2 separate regions of the Homo sapiens genome follow, and region 1 is linked to region 2. Evidence: fine-mapped expression QTL. A gene starts in region 2. The other region holds a variant in brackets. All regions are shown on one strand. Distances are between the middles of the regions. Region 1 has its middle 7.0 kb from the start of FCGBP. Region 2 holds the start of PSMC4 (proteasome 26S subunit, ATPase 4).

Evidence for each region. PIP is the estimated chance that this variant, and not a neighbour inherited with it, causes the effect. A credible set is the group of variants that fine-mapping cannot tell apart.
Region 1: its variant is the best candidate, but not a certain one, in a credible set for the expression of PSMC4 in whole blood (TOPMed, PIP 0.59).

What each region holds. Positions count from the first base shown.
Region 1 is chr19:39,940,218-39,943,124 of GRCh38, reverse strand. It overlaps the pseudogene PRR13P5. Among named protein-coding and RNA genes, the nearest start is that of FCGBP, 7.0 kb to the right of the region's middle. RefSeq lists enhancers at 1,187-1,276, 1,377-1,456. The variant G/A (reference allele first, on the strand shown) is at 1,775.
Region 2 is chr19:39,969,733-39,972,639 of GRCh38, reverse strand. PSMC4 (proteasome 26S subunit, ATPase 4) reads right to left here and starts at 1,475. Exons shown (of 11, transcript NM_006503.4): 1 at 1,402-1,475; 2 at 396-494; 3 at 85-271. The coding sequence starts at 1,437. LOC124904720 (a long non-coding RNA gene) reads left to right here and starts at 1,669. Exons shown (of 3, transcript XR_007067260.1): 1 at 1,669-1,760; 2 at 2,204-2,286. RefSeq lists enhancers at 512-1,191, 1,216-1,605, 2,106-2,155.

The DNA.
Region 1 (2,907 bases), 30 kb after region 2:
CTCCACCTGAGCCTCACCCTGCTGTTGAGCCCTGAGTGGCTAGGGGAAATAGGAAGAGGATTGCCATGGCCTGGCCATCTTGTTGCTGCTTGGAGAGATCATATAGCTAATGAATTAGGCAGGGGAGCTATTTTTTGAAGATGATGAACTAAATGTTGAAGACAAGTTTGAGATCTGTAAAATGTGATTTTTTACTTCCACTTATAATACTTGTGATTGGGGAGGTTTGTGGAAATTCAATTATGATGAAAAACCTCTATCTTTTTTGTAATGTTGGCATACTTGGGGGATTTAGTGGCAAATACATTCCCCAGCAGGCCTTTTGTTGGTTGCACTAACTGCAAGGTTGCTGGGAAGTAGAGTCCATTTGGTTGATGAGCTTTGACTGCGGTTTTGGAACCTTACCTCTCCTCCTTAGCCCAATATGCTGTCTCGGGTCCTATTCAAATAAAGTTATTTCTCCTGGTCTAAAAAAAAAAAAAAAAAAAAAAAGAATAAGGAGAATGAAATCTCTTGGCTGGGAGTGAGACAGCTGGCTGGCTTCCTATTTTGAGGTGGTTTAGTGAAAAAGAACAAAAGCCCCTTACTCAAGCTGTAGCTTGTCTGCAGCAGGATAATTAAGGAATCAGAGAGACCGTGGGGTTGAGGAGGAATTATTTAATTATTCAGGTGCACCGACCCAGTCAGATTAACATCCAAAGGACTGAGCCCTGAACAAAGAGTCAAGCTACCTTTTAAGCATTTCGTGGGGCTGGGGGAGATCTGTGCAGGGGGAAGCATATCACAGAAGTGAGAAACAAAGACAGTCATTCAATTGAGACATGCATTATATCATTTTTTTTTCAAGGAACAGCATGTTTTACGACTTGAGATTATCTGTCTAGTGATCTTACAGCTGCACAGCTAGAGAAACAGAGTCTTCACAATGCCTGGGAAAGGGAGAGATAAGGCTCACTAGCCATAGAAAAACAGGCAGTTAATTTTAAAGGACTCCAGCTCTTTCTCTTCCTCAGGGGGAATTGGGTTTTCTTACATACAACTAAGTTTTGCTTACACATTCTTTATTTCTTTTAATTCCTGTTCTATACCTAACCTCCAGCCAGTCAGCATCAGAGGCCCAAGAAGCTATTAACCACAAGTTCCTGCTTTAGGGGCTTAGGGACTTCCCCAGGAAGCCACAGGAACAGCTTAGGTTTCAACTTACAGTGATAATTTCCTTATTTCAATGCTAAAAATCATGCTCAGAGGTAGAGATTTAAAATGCCAATATTACATGCAATGTATGAAAAACCATGTTGAACCATTGTGCAGGCGCCAAGAAATCCCTTGTTAACACATGATGACAGGCACATCATGGCATCTGGACCCCTACAAGACAGATCGACTTGCTCCCTGTGGGGAGCAGCCTACCCTTTTCCTTTCACGGTGCTGACCTCCCTTCTGCACAAACGGAAACAAACTTTTTTTTTTTTTTCTCTTTAATACTGTGTCTGGTAATCTCACTTGATTTCTATCTTAGGAGACTACAACAAGCCAGGATGATGGTAACATCTCTGTCAAGATGACATAGATTTATTTTTCCTGGCTCCTCTCTGCTAAAAACCCTGGAATAACATAACAGACATTCTTAAGAGGACTCTGAAAGATAAAAAGAAGGAAAACTGACAAGGGCCTTAGAACTCGAGAAACATCTCAGTGGCCCAGCATCTCTCAATTTCCCACCCAACGACAGGACGTGGTCTAGATCCAGCATCTCCCCAGCCCCCTATCCAGC[G/A]GCAGAAAGCACCCAGGTAGGTGCTTTCCCCACCCTAGTGGATGGCAGAGATGAAGGAAGAGCCCTGCTGGCACCACGCAGCCCAGGGAAGTACTCTCCACCCTTTTGTGCCAGTGTCTCCTACTCCTAACGTAGCAGCACCAAGCAGGCCCCAAGAAAATGCTTTTAACCTCCATTGGTGGTACTAACAGGAATTGGGTATGAGCTCAACCAGCACCAGGCAAATGAAATAGACCGGAATAATAATGCAAGGGCTCTGAAAACTAAATTGTCATTGGAATCATAGCACACAAAAGTAGGCCAGGACCTGCATGCTAACCTAAAAACAGTGACTGCTAAAATGGAAGAGTTAAATAGGATCCAGGGTCTCCTCTCATAATACCAGAAATGTCCAGGATATAATTTAAAAATCATACATAATATGAACAACCAGAAAAATCACAACTTGAATGAGAAAAGCCAATCAACAATCTAACACTGAGATGAAAGATTTTAGAATTATCTGACAAAGATCTAAAGTAGCCATCATAAAAATGTTTCACCAAGCAAGTAGAAATTCCTTGCAAAGATGGGAAAGAAAAGAAAATCTCACCAAAGAAATGGAAAGTATGTTCTTAAAGAATCAAATGAAAATGATAAAACTGAAAAATACAATAACTAAAATAAAAACTCACTGGAAAGGCTCAAGAGCAGAGCAACTATGACAAAGGAAATAAGAAGTGAACTTGAAGATAGAACAATAAAAATTACCCAATCCAAAAAACAGAGAGACAATCAACTTTAAAAAAGAGAAACAGAAAATGACTAACAAGGGCTCAGAGAACCTGCAGGACAATTATAAAATAGCTAACATTTGTATTATCAGATTAACAGAAGGAGAAAAGAAAGTGGGGCTGAAAAATATTTGAAGAATAATGACCAAACCTTCCCAAATTTGGCAAAAGACATAAACCTACAGATGCAAGAAGCTAAACAGAATAAATCTGACGGATTCCATGCCAAAACACAGTATAACTAACTTATGAAAACAAAGGCAAACAATGAAACTATCTTGGAAGCAGCTAGAGAGGAATTATAAATTGTCTATAGGGAACACTGATCAAATGACAAAAAATTTCTTATCAAAAACCATG
Region 2 (2,907 bases):
CCTGCCTTGTTTGCTGCTGCCTAGCACATGGTAGGAAATAGTTGTTAAGTGGACAGATGAATGAATGAGGTGTCCTTAGCACACCTGTGGTAGAGCCCACGATGGCTGTATTCTGATCCACAGCCTCCAGAAATTGTCCGATGACCAGCGGGATGCTTTGGATTCGCTTCACCTCCTCCTGGGCATGGAGAAATTCCTTTTTCAGGTTCTTTTGCTCATCTTTGATGTATTCCTCCTGCACCTCCAGGAACTCCAGCTCTTGCTGCAGCTTCTGCGAGCAGAGAGGGGACAGAAGGGGATGGCTCCAGACTTGCTGATCCAGAGAGTGGTGGAAAGTGGGGAAGAGTATGAGATGTCAGGTCCTGTGCAAGGTCTGGGTTGGGGGTCGAATGTACCTTGTAGCGGCTGTACAGGTCCTCCAGGTCCTCAGGCTCAGGGCCCAGGAAGGACAGGCCGGTCTGGGGCCGGGACACGGACAGTGCTGGGATCTCATCCTAGACGAAAGGGGATAACTCACATTGGAAGAAGACAGTCCTCTCATGAAAGCTTCCCAACTTCACTAATGTTTGTTCCCCTCCCCACTTCACCCTGATGTCACTTAGCCCCTAACAGACCCCTGATATCTTAAGACCCTCTAAATAGATCCTGGAAACCTTTTGGCCACCTAAACAAGCTCTTTATGTCAACTTGCCCCTCAAACAGATCTTATGTTATCATATACCACTCATAACATGTCCCCAGTGTCACACAACCCCCAACTAGGATCTAAACGTCACATCAACTCCTTATCAGACCCAAATGCCACCCAATCCCCTTCAAGAGGTTCCTAATGTCACATGGCTCTCCTAGATAGGCTGTTAAAGTGACTGCGCCTTCAACGAGTCCCAACATTCCCCAGTTTCCCCTCAAAGATCCCTTATGTCACAGTCTCCTAACTCACCTTAGACCTAAATATCACTCAGGCAAGCCACAGATAATACTTAACTACCCGCCCCATTACCCCCATCAGCAAAGCCCTGAACATCAGTCAGCCCCGCAGCCCAGACCCGGGGATCACTCGGCCGCACGGCGGGATCCCATATATCACTCACCGCCTGACCCAATCCCAACGCCGGGCCACCGACCTCACTAAGCACTACCGGCCAGGGTTCGAAATCAATCCGTCTCAAAGACCCACTAACGTCACTCACTCCCCCAGCCCCGCTTTCTGAGCCTTACCTCCTACCATCACTCGGCCACCCAGACAGGCCTTCGAATGGCACAAAGCTCTCCACCGAGGCCTCTAAAATAACCCCAACCTGGGCCGGGGTCCTGGAAGCCATTCCTCCCCCCACTCAGGTCTGGCTTCACCCTCTCCCCGCGAGCCCGGCCCGGACTAAAAAGCCCAAGTCCCCACTGTACCTGAGCCTTCTCCACCAAGATGCCTATCTCCTCCATAGTGACCAAGCCGGCCTCTGTGTGGCCTGGGATGATCTGTCACCGCTTCCGCTGACGACAACGGAAGTCCCTGGCTGAGGAGGCTTCTGGGAAGTGTAGTTTAAGTTACGGCTGAGAGGTGCTGGAAGGGCAGGATAGGACGAAGGGCTGGTCTGGGCTCCGCCCTCAACATAAGCTCATGCGCTGTCCGTACCCGCAGGCGCGAGGGCGGGACGGGAGCTGTGGGCGTGCGCAGTATCACGCGGTGGCGCCATCTCGCCCTGCCGTGGAGGGCTGGGGGTTCTCTCCGGGAGGTGGCGCAGCCCCGTTGCTCTTTCAACGGAGTAAGTTCGCAGAGCTCTGGCACGGACAGTCTGGCGGCCAACTGCTCTTCGCTTTCTAGTGTCTGGGCTGGAGGGTCCTTGAGCTGGGTTCCACAGAAGGGATTGATCGTACGGGCGGGTAAGGTCTCCACGTGGCGCTGATCCAAAGATTGTGCGCCGCGCGGGCGTGGGAAGATCCGAGCTGCCCCTGAAGGTGACATTTCATACTGGGCTTTACCCCGGGATTGAGGAGCCCCGAGCCCGCAGTGAGCAACCAATCGAGTAGAACCCACGCGTCTGGGCTGGGGAAAAGGAGGCAGCGAGTGCCCAGAAGTTGGGTAGCACAGGAGATCCATAGACCTTAGTTCTGTATCCCAGGTTTCCGCCTTACAGATCTATGCCAGGTCCTGCGCTTAAGCTTTACAGGCATCATCGTCGCAAGTATTATGTTTCCTCATTTATAGAGAAGGAGACAAGCTCAGAGCCACGAAGCCACCAGCCACAGTCAACAATGTGCCGAAGGGACAAAGCATAGATTGGGACCCAGGTCTGTCTGTCCCCAAAGCCTGTACTCTTGGCCCCAGGGAAACACTGCTACCCTTCACACCAGCTACAATTTTTGTTAAGTAAACCTTTTATTGAAGTTAAATAAAGAGAAGAGCACAAATCATTACAGCTCGACAAAATTACACAAAGTGAACATGCCCATACAACCTGAATCCAGATCGCAAAACCAAACAGTAGAAGCCTCATGTGCTCCCCTTTCCCCCATCCCTTCTTCTCCCCCCTCCACTCCCCGCCCCGAGACGGAGTCTCACTCTGTTGCCCAGGCTAATATTTGTATTTTTAGTAGAGACAGGGTTTCACCATGTTGGCCAGGCCGGTCACAAACTCCTGACCTCAAGTGATCTGCCTGCCTTGGCCTCCCAAAGTGCTGGGATTATAGGCGTGAGCCACCACATCCGGCCTCCCGATCCCTTCTAAAGGTTATCATTCATCTGTTTTTTTCTTTTTTTTTTAAGAGCTAGAGTCTCTGTCGCCCAGGCTGGAGTGCAGTGGCACGATCATAGCTCACTAGAGTCTCCAACTGCTGGCCTCAAGCTATCCTCTCTCCTCAGCCTCTGAAAGCACTGGGATTACAGGCATGACCCACCCCATGTAGCCTTTA